2 separate regions of the Homo sapiens genome follow, and region 2 is linked to region 1. Evidence: fine-mapped expression QTL. A gene starts in region 1. The other region holds a variant in brackets. All regions are shown on one strand. Distances are from middle to middle. Region 1 holds the start of SCO2 (synthesis of cytochrome C oxidase 2). Region 2 holds the start of SYCE3 (synaptonemal complex central element protein 3).

Region 1 (9,531 bases):
CGAGAGACTTTGGGTCCCTGGGGGTGCGACGGTGCCCCACTACCAGCACCGGCCCCAGGGTGCCCCACCGCTGTGGGCTGCCACCCTCACGCGTACCCCCACATACCAGGGGCCATGCTGATGGCCATCCGACTTCGGGGCATGGATCTGGAGGAGACCTCGGTGCTGACCCAGGCCCTGGCTCAGTCGGGACAGCAGCTGGAGTGGCCAGAGGCCTGGCGCCAGCAGCTTGTGGACAAGCATTCCACAGGGGGTGTGGGTGACAAGGTCAGCCTGGTCCTCGCACCTGCCCTGGCGGCATGTGGCTGCAAGGTTAGAAACCACCTCCTTTCCAGACGGGAGCCTATACCGCACATGCAGCAACCAGTCCATCCACAGGCAGCTCCCAACCTCAAGCCTGGCCCAAAGCCTCCAAGACCCTACCAAGGCTTCTCCCCACCCTGCTCCCCAGCACAGTTCTCCCCACCCCGTTCCCCAGCACAGCGCTTGGGGCCCCTCTGGCTCCAGACCAGGCCCCTTGGAGCAGGAAAAAGATCCACTGATGGAATTCAGACCCCTTTCCCCTTGGGTCCCCAGACAGCTCCCCCAAGGGAGGAGCTGAGGACTTTCCTCCCTCTGCCCCAAGCCTTGTTTCCCCAAGGACAGGTACCAACCTCCTCCCCTACTGACACTTCTCAACCAAGAAAACTTCCTTTCCATTCCCTCACCAGCTGGGCACCCCTATAGCTGCTTAAATACTTTCCAAATCCAGCTGCACTCCTAGCCAGGGAAGGTGAAGGGATGCACAGAGGTGGGGGAGGGGTACTGTGCAGGGTACTCAGCATCCCTGACCACCAGGTGCCAATGATCAGCGGACGTGGTCTGGGGCACACAGGAGGCACCTTGGATAAGCTGGAGTCTATTCCTGGATTCAATGTCATCCAGAGCCCAGAGCAGGTACGGGGCGCCACGGATCAGTCATTAATCCAGGTTGATGATGGAGACCCTGGCCAGAATCACTAAAAGATCACTGGTGGATCATTAGGGTCACTAATGAGAACACTGGTCAAGGTTACTCATGAGTCACTGGGCCTGGGCCGAAATCATCAGTGGAACTTTGATTAGGATCATAAAATGGGAAGTTGGTCAAAATCACAGATGGCTGGCGGGGCACGGTGGCTCACACCTGTAGTCCTAGCACTTGGGGAGGCCGAAGAGGGCAGATCCCTTGAACCCAGGAGTTCAAAACCAGCCTGGATAACACGGCAAAACCCCATCTCTACAAAATAGTTCGCTGCGTGTGGTGGTGCACGCATGTGGTTCCAGCTACTCAGGAGGCTGAGGCAGGAGGATCACTTGAGCCTGGGAGGTCTAGGCTGCAGTGAGCCGGGACGATGCCACTGCACTCCAGCCTGGGCAACAGAGTGAGACCCTGTCCCAGCACTCTGGGAGGCAGAGGAGCCCAGTTGGAGATCAGCCTGGGTAATATAGTGAAACTTGATCTCTACAAAAAAAAGAAGAAAAAAAAAAGCCGCGTGTGGTGGTGCGCACCTGTAGTCCCAGCTACTGGGAAGCTGAGGTGGGAGGATCACTTAAGCCCAGGAGGCAGAGGTCACAATGAGCCGAAATTGTGCCAACTGCACTCCAGCCTGGGCAACAGAGGAAGACTCTTCACAGAAAAAAAAAAAAAAAAAAAAAAAGCTGCTAAGTCATTTACCATAAGTCACTGAGAACAGGGGATGTCTGACCAGATGCAAGTGCTGCTGGACCAGGCGGGCTGCTGTATCGTGGGTCAGAGTGAGCAGCTGGTTCCTGCGGACGGAATCCTATATGCAGCCAGAGATGTGACAGCCACCGTGGACAGCCTGCCACTCATCACAGGTGACCTGACTCCATGGCCTGCTTCTGCATGTTCACAGGCTCCTGACCTCCAAACTCAAGTCAAGGGCCTCTCGTTAGGAGTTACCCGTCACCTGACCGTGTGCCCCCCTACCCCCATCACAAGATGCCTGACCACCACCATGTGGGGTGGCCTGATACTCAACCCACCAGGTGCTGCCACCCCCATAATAAGGGACTTGACCCTCAATGCTCAGGGCCCCTGACCCCAAAGTCGGCATCCCCGAACTCTCCCAAGAAGCTCCAGGTTCTCCATTGTCTCCAACCTCCTCTGCCTCCCCCAAAGCCTCCATTCTCAGTAAGAAACTCGTGGAGGGGCTGTCCGCTCTGGTGGTGGACGTTAAGTTCGGAGGGGCCGCCGTCTTCCCCAACCAGGAGCAGGCCCGGGAGCTGGCAAAGACGCTGGTGAGCGGTGTGGCCTTTCCCTGGGCAAGCGTCTTGATGCGGGCCCAGCCTACCCTTCACCCCTCCCGTCCCCACTGCCTCCCTCCACTCAGCAGTCCTGCCTAACCCCAGTCCCACCCTCTTCTGCCCGAAGTCCCTCCCTCCTTCACGGCTTCCTAACCTGCTGTGACTTTAGAGGTCAAGGCTGGCCCGGCCTGGACCTGGGGAAGCCCTCTGTGGCGTTCCTGCCCCAGACCAAGTACAAGTTCCTCCTGGCCCCATGGCGAGGTGTCGCACTTCACTCGTGTCTCTTCCCCACCCCAATCCTTCCCTGACTTCATGCTGGGGGGCTGGCAACCCAGGGTGCAGCAGGGGCTGGAGTTCGACCAAGAACCGGCTGCAGAAGGCCCCGCCATGGGGGGTCCACGCTGAGCCTCCTCTCCGCAGGTTGGCGTGGGAGCCAGCCTAGGGCTTCGGGTCGCGGCAGCGCTGACCGCCATGGACAAGCCCCTGGGTCGCTGCGTGGGCCACGCCCTGGAGGTGGAGGAGGCGCTGCTCTGCATGGACGGCGCAGGCCCGCCAGACTTAAGGGACCTGGTCACCACGCTCGGTGAGGGGGACGGGGTGTAGGGGAGCGGAGGCGGCGGGGGGTGCTTCCCGCTGGGGCCGCCCCGACCCGGCCGCGCCTAAGACCCGTCCCCGCCCGCAGGGGGCGCCCTGCTCTGGCTCAGCGGACACGCGGGGACTCAGGCCCAGGGCGCTGCCCGGGTGGCCGCGGCGCTGGACGACGGCTCGGCCCTTGGCCGCTTCGAGCGGATGCTGGCGGCGCAGGGCGTGGATCCCGGTCTGGCCCGAGCCCTGTGCTCGGGAAGTCCCGCAGAACGCCGGCAGCTGCTGCCTCGCGCCCGGGAGCAGGAGGAGCTGCTGGCGCCCGCAGATGGTGAGCGTCGGGGGAGTCCCCGTCCTTCCGCCTCCGCCATCCCCTTCCCTTCCCGAGGCCCCGCCCCTTCCCGAGCCCGCGCCTCTCAGCCCCTCTCCCCGCAGGCACCGTGGAGCTGGTCCGGGCGCTGCCGCTGGCGCTGGTGCTGCACGAGCTCGGGGCCGGGCGCAGCCGCGCTGGGGAGCCGCTCCGCCTGGGGGTGGGCGCAGAGCTGCTGGTCGACGTGGGTCAGAGGCTGCGCCGTGGTGAGCGCCGCCCCCGCCCTGCTGGCCCCGCACCCCCGCCCAGCTCCGGCCGCGCGGCCTCTAACAGCCCCTCGCTCTGCAGGGACCCCCTGGCTCCGCGTGCACCGGGACGGCCCCGCGCTCAGCGGCCCGCAGAGCCGCGCCCTGCAGGAGGCGCTCGTACTCTCCGACCGCGCGCCATTCGCCGCCCCCTCGCCCTTCGCAGAGCTCGTTCTGCCGCCGCAGCAATAAAGCTCCTTTGCCGCGAAACCTTGTCAGTGCTTGGGCGGGAGCGGAAGGATCCAGGGCTGCGGAGGCGGGGGCCGTCTCGATGAACACGTGACCCCCGGCGGGCTCCGCCTTCCGCGCACGCGCTGAGAGCCTGTCAGCGGCTGCGCCCGTGTGCGCATGCGCAGCTCCGGGGACGCCTGCGCCCTGCCTGTGAGCGTGTGGCGCCCGCTTTCCCTGAGCCGGCGGGGCAGAGCGCAGGGAGCTGGAGGTCGGCGCTTCCTCTCGTGCTTGGTCCACTGACGCGCGGCCCCGCCGCGAGGTGCGGACGCCGGGGCTGGGAGGGGAGGAGGTAGCCCTGAGGACTCGCTGGACTCCGGGGTAGTTTCCCAGCTCCGGCTACTGCGCGGGGCTGGCGGGGCACACCCCAGGGCGCGCTGGAGGCCGGAGCGAGGCTGGGGCGCCCGTGGGAGGCTCCCAGCAGGCACCGGTGTTCTCGCGGCCAAGCACAGTTATAACGCGCTCGCGCGGCGCTTCGAGTGGTCCTGGAACCTTTCTGGCCACGAGGGCGCTGGCCTTGCTGGGGAGGGCACAAACCCAGAACCGCCCGGGCGGGGGTGCAGTGAGTCCTCGGGAGGGTGCCCTCAGCAGGAGGGGGCAGTGACCGGGAGTCCTGAGACCTCCACCTAGCAAACCTTCTGCGGGGGCCCGTGGGAAAGGCTCAAAGGTCACCAACGCAAAGGCAGGGCGTCGGCTGTGAGCCCGGAGGAGCTGCTGGGAAGCCTGGATGTGAGGAGGGTGGGGTTTTGTGGCGGGTGGAAGTGTCGTGCGTCTCTGCCAGGAGAGGTTAAACACAGCCGGCGGGCAGAGTCTGAGCTCCGGGGGTAGGTCGTGCAGGTTTTCTGCTGGGAGTGTGGAGGAAGGCCGCGGTTGGTTGAAGTGGCTGGAGGTAACAGGAAAGTGTTGGAGGAATCGGTTGCTCTCGGGGATTGCAAGCCAGAGAGTTACCCACCTCCTTTTAAGAAATGGGTTTATTGCAAATAGATAACGTGGTTAGTTCAGGCAAGGCATGCACTTGGAATGCTTTCCGTCAGCAAGAGGTTCACCTTGCTGAGGTGCAGGTGCAGGGCAGGGTGCGGTGACAGGCTGGTGATCCCAGGTAGAGGACAGGAGTGACAGGTGTGGTTGCCCAGGTGTGGATGTTTGGTGGAGGTGGAGTTCTGAGCTCAGGTGAGCAGCTGCAAATGCCTGTTAAGCCTGAACGTGGGCTGGGTCCTTCAGATGGGTGGCTGGTCTCAAGTCGCAGGGGCAGCCCAGGCACTGTCCTGGGCCTTCCCTTCTGGCTCCTGACGCCTGTGCTTGTTTCCAGGAGCATCAGATCCATGCTGCTGCTGACTCGGAGCCCCACAGCTTGGCACAGGCTCTCTCAGCTCAAGCCTCGGGTCCTCCCTGGGACCCTGGGAGGCCAGGCCCTGCATCTGAGGTCCTGGCTTTTGTCAAGGCAGGGCCCTGCAGAGACAGGTGGGCAGGGCCAGCCCCAGGGCCCTGGGCTTCGAACCCGGCTGCTGATCACAGGCCTGTTCGGGGCTGGACTCGGTGGGGCCTGGCTGGCCCTGAGGGCTGAGAAGGAGAGGCTGCAGCAGCAAAAGCGAACAGAAGCCCTGCGCCAGGCAGCTGTGGGCCAGGGCGACTTCCACCTGCTGGATCACAGAGGCCGGGCTCGCTGCAAGGCTGACTTCCGGGGCCAGTGGGTGCTGATGTACTTTGGCTTCACTCACTGCCCTGACATCTGCCCAGACGAGCTGGAGAAGCTGGTGCAGGTGGTGCGGCAGCTGGAAGCAGAGCCTGGTTTGCCTCCAGTGCAGCCTGTCTTCATCACTGTGGACCCCGAGCGGGACGACGTTGAAGCCATGGCCCGCTACGTCCAGGACTTCCACCCAAGACTGTTGGGTCTGACCGGCTCCACCAAACAGGTTGCCCAGGCTAGTCACAGTTACCGCGTGTACTACAATGCAGGCCCCAAGGATGAGGACCAGGACTACATCGTGGACCACTCCATTGCCATCTACCTGCTCAACCCTGACGGCCTCTTCACGGATTACTACGGCCGGAGCAGATCGGCTGAGCAGATCTCAGACAGTGTGCGGCGGCACATGGCGGCTTTCCGCAGTGTCCTGTCTTGAGCCACTGCAGTCTGGGCCCCATCATTAAACGGGCTGCGTTTAATCTGTGTGTGTGTGTGATCTGTACCAGCGGCCCAGGGAGGCCAGGCAGCCCTCTTCTCTGCGCAGGTGTACATAAAAGGGTTTTTAGGGGGAAGATGAGATGGCAACACTGCTTTATTAGGCCGGGCCAGCCAGGAGCAGACACACGGCTCCTCAGTACACATTCCCCCACCCCTGCCTCGGTGCTCCCCACTCAGGGCTGGGCCATGGAGGGGGCAGCGTAGGTCTGGAAGCGCTTGTGCGCTCGCTGGTGCGTGAGCAGTCTCAGGGACATGGTGTCCACGGCCATCTCCAGCCCGGGCTGCTGGGTTATCTCCACTGTGTAGTCATTGGCCTGCAGGGGTGGCACATCAGCAGGGTCTGGGGACCGTCTCCCCCTCCCACGTATCCCAGGCTACTCACCAGCTGCAGGGAGGCCAGCATGGAACGACACACCTCGAAGGCCGGCTGGCCAGCCACCAGCTCCGCAAAGGGACACCACTCATTGAGCTGGGGGAACCGTGAGACCAGCTGGTCCCCATAGGTGTGGATGTCAAAGGGCACATGCTGCTCCTGCACAGGGGAGGGGCATGTTGGCTGCGGAGAGAGGCAAGGCCCTGGACAGACCCGTGGCACACAGCTCTGGTTCCCAGCGGCCCCGCCTCACCTGCTCCTGGAGCAGAGGCTGCACTGTGTCCTCCCAGTCCCTGATGCGCTGGCTCAGCTCTGTCTCCTGGACAAACTTCTGGGAGGTGGCGATGAAGAGCTCCTAGGGGAGGATCAGCAGGAGCTACTGCCTCCCAAGCAGGGGCCTGGGCACCGCTCACCTGTCCCCCTCCCCTCCCCGTCTCCCTCTAACCCAGGCCTACCACATTCCTTCGAACCAGCTCCTCGTAGCTCAGGGACATCGGCACTGCGTCTGGGAAGGGGTAGCTGTGAGCTGGGCAGCTAAGGGGCCACGCTCTCCCCTGCCCCCAGCTCCAGTGGCCCCTCAGCACTCCTAGCCCGCTGCCCACCTACCAAGGTCAGCGGCTTCCCTGGGGTCTGCTCCCTCGGGCTCCATGTACTCCTCAGGCTCTAGAAAGTCATCTGCTGGGAGGTGGGAGAGTGAACAGCACGCAGGCAGCTAGTCGGCAGGTGCCAAGCCCCACCCCACCCCCTGGCAGGCACCCACCTGCTGCCCCCAGGTCTTCCAGGGAATCCTCCAGGTGGTCCTCCTCTGCAGGCCGCAGCCACTGCTCAGCCACCTGTCCAGAGAAAGCATCTGTGAGGGGCACTGTCACCTCCCATCAGGGCCACCACGGGGTCCTAGATCACAGCTGACCAGCTGGGACTTGCCTCCCTCCTCTGCAGCTTCCGGAGAGTTTCCAACTGCTCCTTCACGTGTGTCCAGTACAGGACCTCCATGTCTGCAGACAAAGGCCTTGTGAGGGCTCCCTCGTCCTTCCCAGGCCCCGTGCCAGTCCACCCAAGGCTTTGGGTGACACCAGGTGGGGGAAGAGGTAGGGGAAGGAGAGTAAAACTGTCTTCCCCGAGGACTTCAGCCTCACCTGCAAAGGACGGACCCTTTCGCCGAAGCCGCCTGCTGTCGGCATGGTCTGCATCTGTGAAAGAACATGCTCAGCACCAGCCAGGCCAAGAGCTGCCCACAGCATTGGGAAAAGGGTGCTGATCCTCCTCCACTGGCCCTGGCCCAGCCCCCAGCTCCCAGTGGTCCGGAGTGCACACCACACCCACTCACAGGCAGCCAGGTACCACTGGTGGAAGTCCTGCAGCTTGGCAGCGCCCTTCCTCTTGCGCTTCTGTCCCAGAGCCTCCTCCACACAGGGGGGCACAGAGTAAGGCCTACCTGGGGGCAAACAGGGACTGTCTTAGAGCCGCTGGGGGATCAGGGTGCAAAGCCCACTCCCACCCCCCCACCTCATGCCCCAGGAAACCCAGCCAGGGGTACCTGAGTGGAGGTACCTTCCACCCAATTACCTTTCTTGAAGGGCTTAGACTCCAAGGAGTCAAAGGGGTCCAGGCTCTGCCAGGGGTCTGGAGTCTCCTGGGCACAGAGCACAAGAAGGCGCTGGAGAAGTAGGGGGTGCACAGCCGTCCCTCCCAAAGGAGTAGGGGATGCACAGCCACCCTCCCAAAGGAAGAGTAGGGGGTACACAGCCGCGCTCCCAAAGGAGGAGTAGGGGGTGCACAGCCACCCTCCCAAAGGAGGAGTAGGGGGTTCACAGCCACCCTCCCAAAGGAGTAGGGGGTACACAGCCACCCTCCCAGAGGAGTAGGGGGTGCACAGCCGCCTTCCCAAAGCCCAGGCAACAAGTGCAGTGACAGCCTGGGGCAGAGCCGACCACACTCAAATCCTGGATCACAGAGGGGAACACTAGAGAGAGGGTGGGAGCCCAGAGTCGCATGAGGGGGTCTTTAAGAGAGCAAGTGCAAAGGGCCACAGGCTGGGAACACCACAGGCCAGCAGGAGCAAGAGCATGATGGGCAGGCAGCCAGTCCTCGAATCCGCCCATCCCTCCCTGCCGGGGGTCAGGGCCCCAACACTCCTACCTTCACGCAGGATGCAGGCTCTGGGGCCCCCTCCCGCTCCCGCAGCATGTACCTCCTGGGCAGGGCAGCACTCTGCAAAGACAGTCACAGGGTCCCCACTTCTCCTCTTTCTCCCCTCAAGGCTCTGGGTACCCCAGGAACTCCACCTTGGGTTAACATCAAGAACCCTACAAGGGTCGGGCGTGGTGGCTCATGCCTGTAATCCCAGCACTTTGGGAGGCCAAGGCGGGCAGATCACCCGAGGTCAAGAGTTTGAGACCAGCCTGGCCAACATGGTGAAACCCCCGCCTCTACTAAAAATGCAAAAAAAATTAGCCGGGTGTGGTGGCGCACACCTGTAATCCCACCTACTCGGGAGGCCGAGGCAGGAGAATCGCTTGAACCCAGGAGGCAGAGGTTGCAGTGAGCCGATATCACACCACTGCACTCCAGCCTGGGCAAAAGAACAAGACTCCGTCCAAAAAAAAAAAAAAAACCTACAGGGACCGGACACAGTGGCTCACGCCTATAATCCCAGTGCTTTGAGAGGCCAAGGCGGGTAGATCACTTGAGCCCAGGAGTTCAAGACCAGCCTGGGCAATGCAGTGAGACCCCGTCTCTACAAAAAATACAAAAATTAGCCGGGTGTGGTGGTACACGCCTGTAGTCCCAGCTACTCGGGAGGCTGAGGTGGAAGGATCACCTGAGCCTAGAGAGAGTCAAGGCTGCAATGAGCCAAGATCAGGCCACTGCACTCTAGCCTGGGCAACAGAGCAAGACCCTGTCTCAAAAATAAATAAATAAAATAAGATAAAAATAAACCCTGCTAGTACTCTCTGGGGGTATTAAAACAAAAACCCTAAGAAAAACTTTAAAACACAAACAGTGGGCCGGGCGTGGTGGCTCACGCCTGTAATCCCAGTGCTTTGGGAGGCCAAGACGGGCAGATCACGAAGTCAGGAGATTGAGACCATCCTGGCCAACATGGTGAAACCCCGTCTCTACTAAAAATACAAAAAATTAGCCAGGCATGGTGGCGGGCGCCTGTAGTCCCAGCTACTTGGGAGGCTGAGGGAGGAGAATGGCGTGAACCCGGGAGGCGGAGCTTGCAGTGAGCCAAGATCGCACCACTGCACTCCAG
Region 2 (8,032 bases), 42 kb before region 1:
CACGCAGGGCTTGGGCCATCTCATGATGGAGCACGGCCTGTTTTCCTGGCTTGCTCCCCTGAAGCTCCCTGGAGTGCTGGGCCAGCTTTCCCGCCCACACCCCACCTGGGCCTGTGGTCCTGGGACTGAGCAGGAGCAACATCCTCTTTGTGGTGTTGGTGTCCTTGTGACAGGGAACAGACAAATATATGATCTGTCAGGTGGTGACAGCACTACTGAGACTAGTGAGGCTATGTGGGGGAGAGGCAGAGCAGAGGGAGGGCTGGGCAGCTCACACAAGCCTTATGTGGCATGATGCACAGGGGACCACGGGGTGGTGGCCAGGGAGCTCCTGCACCCTCAGCAGAACCGTGTCTGGCTCAGAGTAGGTCGCAGACACCACGTGTTGGACAGGTGCTTTGGGTATGTGGCCTCTGACCAGCTGTGGCCTCCATTGCAGGTGCTCTCGGAACCCTGGCGTCTCTCCACCAGCCAGATCCCCCAATCCCAGATCCGCATGTTCGACCCAGAGCAGCACCCCAATCACCTGGGCGCTGGAGGTGGCTTTGGCCCTGTGAGTGCTCCTGAAGGGGGTGGGTGGGCAGCACCAGGGCCCTGAGGGTTTCAGTGGCGAGTGCAGGCCCTGAGGTCAGACGAGAGGCAGGAGCACCTTGCTTAGAGGAGAGCATAACCCCAGACCTGCATGGAAGCAGAATGTTAGCTATGGACTCAGGCAGCCAAGCACCTGGGACCCACCCATCCCAAATACCTCCCTGCTGAAGCATGACCGTGGTTTCCGGGGTACTGAAGCATGACTGTGGGGCTGGTTTCCAGGGTACTGGGCAGTGCACTGGGTGCTTCTGAAGTCTACTTATCCAAGAGAGTGCAGCTGTCTCCCACAGAAACCTTCACATGGGCTAGCTTGTCAGAAGGCTAGAGAACCCTCTGGAGAGAGACGGAGTGATCTAGAGAATAAGCCCCCTGAGGGAAACTGGGAGGTCCCAGATCCCTTGGCGGGGTCTGGGCAGCATTCTTTGGTTTTCACAGTTTCCTGGGGGTGGTCCTCAGGAAAAATGCAGTGTCTAGGGCTGGGGCCCGTTCCTGCAACTCTTGTGGGAAGAACAAGTACAATATCAGCTTGGCTTTCAGATCTTCAAGGTTTGATTTATGCCTTCTTCACCCTTCTTGTTGCCCTCAGGTAGCAGATGATGGCTATGGAGTTTCCTACATGATTGCAGGCGAGAACACGATCTTCTTCCACATCTCCAGCAAGTTCTCAAGCTCAGAGACGGTGAGTCTCCTGCCACAGCTCAGGCCTGAGGAAGGGGTGCCACCTGGGGCTGCCCAGGAACACAGGTGTCTTTGGCTGGGGAGGCATCCTTGCTTGTGGGAACAGAGGGGTGGGTACATATCTGAAGGTGCATCTGAACTCTTGGCTCCCACAGAACGCCCAGCGCTTTGGAAACCACATCCGCAAAGCCCTGCTGGACATTGCTGATCTTTTCCAAGTTCCCAAGGCCTACAGCTGAAGGTTGGAGAAATGCCAGCTGCCCTTTCGTCCCCACACTGTGGAGGAAGGGACCTGTGGCAGCTCACAGGCATGAGGGGTGGCCGTGCACAGGTGCCCAGGCTCCAAGGACAGCTCCGGCAGCAGGTCCTCGCTGGGCAGATGCTGCTCCCTGAGGGCCCAGGTGGTGGAGGTGGGGTTGGAGCAGGAAGGGAATTTTGATTTTTTTTTTTCTTGATAGATACTAATAAAAATAAGGCTGTGTAATTTTCTCTCAGCCCTTAGGTACCTGTGTTTTGTTTGGGAACTCGGAGGCCCTCCCCCTCCCCCAGCTCAGACCACAGAGGTGGCAAGAGAAGGGCTGAAGCTGGAAGACTGTTCATGAGGGACTTGTGTGACCTGCTTTGAAATGTGTGACTCTGCTGAGTGACGTAGGCTCTGAGATAGCTGTCCACGCCCACGTGTTTGCTTGGAATAAATACTTGCCTCAGAACCTTCACCTGTTCCCTGGGGCCATTTCTGTTTGTCTGTCTGCTGGAGAGTGAGCCCACCTCCTCCCATGCAGGGGCATGTGTGAGGCACCCCTCTTGGCTGAGGCACAACCCTGCACGGGCCCCGCAGCTTCTTGTCAGCATGGAAAGGGGCTGCAGGCCCAGGCCTGAAGTCTTGAGGCGCCAGGTGGTCATGTCTGCAAGAGGGCACGCAGGATGACCTGTAGCAACAGACACTCCTTCACTGAGGTTGGCTCGGCTGCTAAAATCATGTTAAGAGTAAATACAAAATAATTATTCTTTGTTTTTAAGGCGGAGTTTCGCTCTTGTTGCCCAGGCTGGAGTGCAGTGGCACGATCTCGACTCACTACAACCTCTGCCTCCTGGGTTCAAGCGATTCTCGTACCTCAGCTCCTGAGTAGCTGGGACAACAGGCGCCCGCCATCACGCCCGGCTAATTTTTTGTATTTTTAGTAGAGGCAGGGTTTTACCATGTTGGCCAGGCTGGTCTCGAATTCCTGACCTCAGGTGATCCACCTGCCTCAGCCTCCCAACGTGCAGGGATTATAGGTGTGAGCCACCGCACCCAGCCATAAAAAATAATTTTTATGAAAAGTATAAGTAGGCCCTCAATTACTGTAATTGAAGTGAATTAGATTCAGTTCTGGACCTTCATTTAGGAACCAGTGTCTTCATCTGTTTTTGTTTTTTTCTTTTTTTTCCCATGAGATAGGGTCTCACTATGTTGCCCAGGCTGGTCTCGAACTCCTGAGCTTAAGTGATCCTCCCACCTCGACTTTCCAAAGTGCTAGGATTTCAGGCGTGAGCCACCGTGCCCGGCCAGGAACCAGTGTCTGTTGAACACCCACCATAGACTTGGCCCTGTGCTGGGGATTCAGTGGTAAACAAGGTCCTATTCCTGCCCATGTCGAATTCACTGCTGGGTGAGGCAGGTGTGGTCAGGGGACAGAGCAGCTGGCAGGAAACCAGGAGGCTTTTGGGATAATCCACTTACCAAGTACAGGCATGGGTTGCTTAATGAAGGGGATACATTCTGAGAAGTGCATTGTTAGGCGATTTTGTTGTGCAAAGATTCTAGAGTGCATTTACACAAAGGTAGATGGTGCAGCCTACTACAGACCTGGGCTATGCTGCTTACCCTGTTGCTCCTAGGCCGCATGCCTTTACAACATGTTACCATACTGAATACTGTAGGCAACTGTAATACAATGGGAAGTCTTTGTGTATCTAAACTTGTCTAAACATAGAAAAGGTATAGTAAAAATGTTATATAAAAGATTAAAAATGGCACCCTTATGGCCAGGTGCAGTGGCTCACGCCTGTGATCCCAGCACCTTGGGAGGCCGAGGCAGGTGGATCACGAGGTCAGAAGATCGAGACCATCCTGGCTAACACGGTGAAACAGTGTCTCTACTAAACAAAATACAAAAACTAGCCAGGCATGGTGGCGGGCGCCCGTAGTCCTAGCTGCTTGGGAGGCTGAGGCAGGAGGATGGCGTGAACCCAGGAGGCGGAGCTTGCACTGAGCCAAGATGGCACCACTGCACTCCAGCCTGGGCAACAGAGCGAGACTCCGTCTCAAAAAAAAAAAAAATGGTACCCTTATATAAGACACTTATAAGACACCATGGGCTGGGCGCAGTGGCTCACGCTTGTAATCTCAGCACTTTGGGAGGCCAAGGCAGGTGGATCACAAGGTCAGGAGATCAAGACCACGGTGAAACCCTGTCTCTACTAAAAATACAAAAAATTAGCCAGGTGTGGTGGTGGGTGCTTGTAGTCCCAGCTACTGGGAGAGGCTGAGGCAGGAGAATGGCGTGAACCTGGGAGGTGGAGCTTGCAGTGAGCCAAGATCGCGCCACTGCACTCCAGCCTGGGCGACAGAGCAAGACTCCGTCTCAAAAAAAAAAAAAGAGGAAAAGTAAGTGGAGAGACAAAAGGAGAGGTGGGTGGCAATTTCAGACAGTGGCAAAAGCAAGCCTTCCTGATTGGGGTCCTTTGACCACAGGCCTGAAGGAGACGAGGAGCAAGTCATGTCCCTCATGTCCCTCATGTTCCGTACCTAAGGGCAGAGTATTCCTGGCTGAAGGAACAGCAAGAGCCAAAGCTTTGCGAGCGGTGTCTGCTGTGATGAAGGATGTGGCTAGTGTGGAGTCAGGGATGGGAAGAGCAAGCGGGGCAGCTAGATCGGGGTAACAAGGGCCTCGTAGGCCAGATTCTGGATTTTCTGAATGACGGGGGAAGCTGTTGGGCTTTGAACAGAGGGTGGCATAATCTGTCCTAATTTTAAGGGATCACTGGCTAACCAGGGTGGCGTTAGAACAAAGTAGGACGCAGTAACAGTGGAAGCAAGGAGACCCGCTGGAGAAGTGCTCCTGGTGGTGGTGGAGCTGGAAGAAATGAGCGGCTTAAACTAAGGCAGTGCCATAGGAAAGTAGAATTAAGGAGCTTGGAATGTCAAACGTAGGACTGACAAGTCTAATCAGGAGGAATCAAAGATAACTCATATTTTCTATATTGGGTGATTGGGTGATTAAATTAGGTCTTTAAATGTTGAATTTGACTTGCCTATAAGAAATAGCTGTGAAAATGTCTCAGACTCTTGAAAATATAAATGAAAAGCTAAGGAGAGATCTAGGCTCCTTCTAACAGTTTTGAAGACAGTTAAAACCTT[G/A]AAAGTGCATGAGAGGATTCCCAGGGCAGAGGCTCCTCACCTCCTTCAAGTCTTCATGAGCTATAAGAGTATGCCTCTTGGGGCCGGGCGCGGTGGCTCACACCTGTAATCCCAGCACTTTGGGAGGCCGAGGCGGGCAGATCACGAGGTCAGGAGATCGAGACCATCCTGGCTAATACAGCAAAACCCTGCCTCTACTAAAAATACAAAAATTAGCCGGGTGTGGTGGCACGTGCCTGTAGTCCCAGCTACTCAGGAGGCTGAGGCAGGAGAATCGCTTGAACCCAGGAGATGGAGGTTGCAGTGAGCTAAGATGGTGCCACTGTACTCCAGCCTGGGAGACCGAGACTCTGTCTCAAAAAAAAAAAAAAAAAAAGAGTACACCTCTGCCTGCAAAATGTTACATTCCATATCAGAGCGTTCTTCAGCTTCCAAAAGTATTTCCAGAGACCTCTACCTGTTTGGGTGCCAGTAAGCCTCCCCTGGGAAGGTGCCTGCGTTTTGGTAGTCTTCTGGGGACATCAGCTCACCCCGTCCTGAGATAGCAGTAAACAGAGTTTCCAACAAGCTAGCTTTCAATTAACATCAAAATTCAGCATTAAAGTTCTTTTATCTCATTTGTTCTGGGTTAAAATAGTGAGATGAGGAACAACAGTGGTAAACCAGGGTATAAACCTCTGGAGACTGCTGGGCATGGTAGCTCACGCCTGTAATGCCTGTGCTTTGGGAGGTCTTGAGCCCAGGAGTTCGAGACCAGCCTGGGTGGTGCAGTGAGACCCCATCTCTACAAAATTAAAAAAAAAAAATTAGCCAGGCGTGGTGGCACTTGCCTGTGGCCCCAGCTACTCTGGAGGCTGAGTTGGGAGGATTACTTGAGCCTGAGAGATTGAGGCTGCAGTGAGCCATGATTGACCCACTGCATTCCAGCCTAGGTGACAGAGCAACACCCTGTCTTAAAAAAATAAATAAACCTCTGATGACAACCCAAACCCCAATTAGTTCCCCATGTCCCATAGGTCTGCAGGTCTGCATTAATAAAAGCTAGCAGCCATAACATAAATCCTGAAACCTCATGGCTCAACCCAATAGAAGCTGGACTGTTGGTCAGATAAAATCCAGTTGGCTGAGATGAGGGCTCTGCTCCATACTGTTATTCAAGGATCTATGGTGACAGAGGCCCTGCCTTCAGCAGGTAGTACTCAAGCTGCCTTGGGCATCAACATCATAAGTACGTGGGGAGAGAAAGAGGGGGCCACCTGTGGGAGGCTTTGATGGCCTCAACCTCAAAGTGATACACAGCATTTCCCTCCACACCCTCTGGCTAAAGACTTGTATTTCAAGAGAATCTGAGAAGTAGAGTCTAGCTGTGTGTCCAGGGCGTAAAGGAAACATTTAGTGACAGTTGGTCTCAGATACACAAGGGCATGGGAAGACCAGCCTGACATCTTCCTGGGCTTCATGGCCTGGAGTTTGCAGGGTAGCCCACCTCCAGCTCCTGAGCAGGGTACTCAAGAGCCTGCACATTCCAGCTCAACTGATCTTTCCCGAGTCTTCTCTGTCCCTTACCAAGAACCCTGAGCCCAGAACACACTCGCCATTCCCCAAAGGAGGCAGGCTGAGCCACACCTTCGCCTTTGCCCTAGATGGGCCTTCTGCCTGGAATCCTGTGCCCTTTCTCCTACTCTCTCGGAAGCTGTCTTCCTTAGCCATCAGAATTATTCCTGATTCGGGCCAAGCACAGTGGCTCACACCTGTAATCCCAGCACTTTGGGAGTCCGAGGCGGGTGGATCACCTGAGGACAGGAGTTCGAGACCAGCCTGGCCAACATAGCGAAACCCGGTCTCTACTAAAAATACAAAAACTAGCTGGGCGTTGTGGCATGTGCTTGTAATCCCAGCTACTAGGGAGGCTGAGGCAGGAGAATCACTTGAACCTGGGAGGCGGAGGTTGCAGTGAGCCGAGATCGTGCCACTGCACTCCAGCCTGGGCAACAGAGCAAGACTCCGTCTCAAAAAAAAAAAAAAAGAATTATTCCCTATTCATGTTTCTCTGGGCTGCTGTAACAGAAATCGGCTCTGGGCTGTATAAGCAAATGGAAGTATGAAGAGCAGCTCACAGGTGGAAAGGGATGGCCAGAAAACCGGGTTCAACCGGGGCAGGAACCTGGCAGCTGGCGGAGGGAGTGTGGCCCAGGCAGCAGCCTCCTCAATAAACAAGCGAATGCTCACTCCTTGCCCAGAACTGTCTGGCTCAACCCCAGCCATTTTTCCTCCTCTGCAATCAGGCTGCTAAGAATCAGAATCCCTGAGAGAAAATTCAGGGGGTCTAAGGTTTGTCAGGATTCTCAAACACAAGGTGTTCAAAATCAAAGTTAACCTTCCAAGCTAGCTTCTCCCACTCTTCCACATCTCTGCCAGTGGTATCACCCCGGCCATTAGCCCCTTGCTTCTTTCTCCCTCCCTCCCACATTACCAAGCCCTGTCAAGTCGACCTTGGAATGGCTTTGACCCTGTCCACCACTCAGCCAAACAACAGCAACGGCCGGCCCCGTCGCCACCCGCCTCGGCAGCCAGAGACCTTTTAACTCTGCCACTCGCCTACTTACCACCCTTCTAGGGTGCCCACGTCCCTCTGAAAAAAAAGGCTGAGCTCAGACTGGCCTCTGGTCAGCCTCCTCCCAGCCAGAGCTTTCTGTCACTGCCCTTCTAGGTGTTGAGTGGCTCTGCTTCCAGTTCTTGCCTGGAGACCAGGAGCGCCCGGGAGGCCCCAGCACTTTCCAGCCCACATAGACCTGCGTGCACCTCTGCCTCGTCTCCCTGAGCCCGGGCTGCCTCCTCTGTAAGATACATGCCACATAATGTCCGCCACACATGATCGCTGTGACAGTGGAAATAGCTGGGCGTTCAGCGACTCATTCGACAAATGTTTACCAGCACCTTTGGTACCGGGCGCTGTCCTGGACACTGGGGACACAGCAGGCAAACGGGGCCCTGCGTATAAATCCTTAAGCTCAAGAAGGAGGTGGGGGCAAAACTGTCAGGCCGGGAAGCTCTTCATCTCCGCAGGATTCTCCCTCAACCTCAGGACGTCCCCAGCACCGCACCTGCCAGTCCCAGACTCGGACGCCGCAGACCTGTGGGAGCAGCGCGGAATGCCCCGCCCCTTTTCCCGAGGACACCCAATGAGGGCGAGAGGTCACTTCCGGGGAGGGTTCGCTAACGGAAAGGGCGGGGCATCCCTCTCGAGGAGCGGCCTTGTTCCTCAAGCGGCCGCTGGGGGCGCCAGAGCAGGACCGGAGCGCGGGCCAAGCTGGAGGTGAGCGAGGCCGCGCCCCCCTGGGCCCCGGCCCTCCCAACGCG

What was found.
Region 2: its variant is fine-mapped to the expression of SCO2 in whole blood (INTERVAL, PIP above 0.99).

What each region holds. Positions count from the first base shown.
Region 1 is chr22:50,519,917-50,529,447 of GRCh38, reverse strand. It overlaps SCO2 (synthesis of cytochrome C oxidase 2), which reads left to right and starts at 3,850. Exons shown (of 2, transcript NM_005138.3): 1 at 3,850-3,976; 2 at 5,024-5,880. The coding sequence starts at 5,037. The coding sequence ends at 5,837. NCAPH2 (non-SMC condensin II complex subunit H2) reads right to left here. Exons shown (of 20, transcript NM_152299.4): 10 at 8,412-8,483; 11 at 7,839-7,905; 12 at 7,600-7,707; 13 at 7,409-7,462; 14 at 7,197-7,267; 15 at 7,033-7,105; 16 at 6,879-6,947; 17 at 6,728-6,777; 18 at 6,526-6,627; 19 at 6,282-6,431; 20 at 4,668-6,213. The coding sequence ends at 6,073. TYMP (thymidine phosphorylase) reads left to right here. Exons shown (of 10, transcript NM_001953.5): 3 at 110-312; 4 at 838-936; 5 at 1,731-1,860; 6 at 2,165-2,283; 7 at 2,710-2,872; 8 at 2,972-3,202; 9 at 3,307-3,447; 10 at 3,530-3,696. The coding sequence ends at 3,678. RefSeq lists enhancers at 29-188, 1,909-2,058, 2,079-2,278, 2,069-2,640, 2,449-2,748 and silencers at 2,839-3,668, 3,879-4,178.
Region 2 is chr22:50,562,814-50,570,845 of GRCh38, reverse strand. SYCE3 (synaptonemal complex central element protein 3) reads left to right here and starts at 7,927. Exons shown (of 3, transcript NM_001123225.3): 1 at 7,927-7,988. CPT1B (carnitine palmitoyltransferase 1B) reads left to right here. Exons shown (of 20, transcript NM_152246.3): 17 at 440-553; 18 at 1,178-1,270; 19 at 1,425-1,510; 20 at 1,765-1,985. The coding sequence ends at 1,508. CHKB-CPT1B (CHKB-CPT1B readthrough (NMD candidate)) reads left to right here. Exons shown (of 30, transcript NR_027928.2): 27 at 440-553; 28 at 1,178-1,270; 29 at 1,425-1,679; 30 at 1,765-1,985. It overlaps LOC107985568 (a long non-coding RNA gene), which reads right to left and starts at 7,885. Exons shown (of 2, transcript XR_001755606.3): 1 at 7,279-7,885; 2 at 1,703-2,239. RefSeq lists an enhancer at 612-681 and a silencer at 7,826-8,032. The variant G/A (reference allele first, on the strand shown) is at 4,673.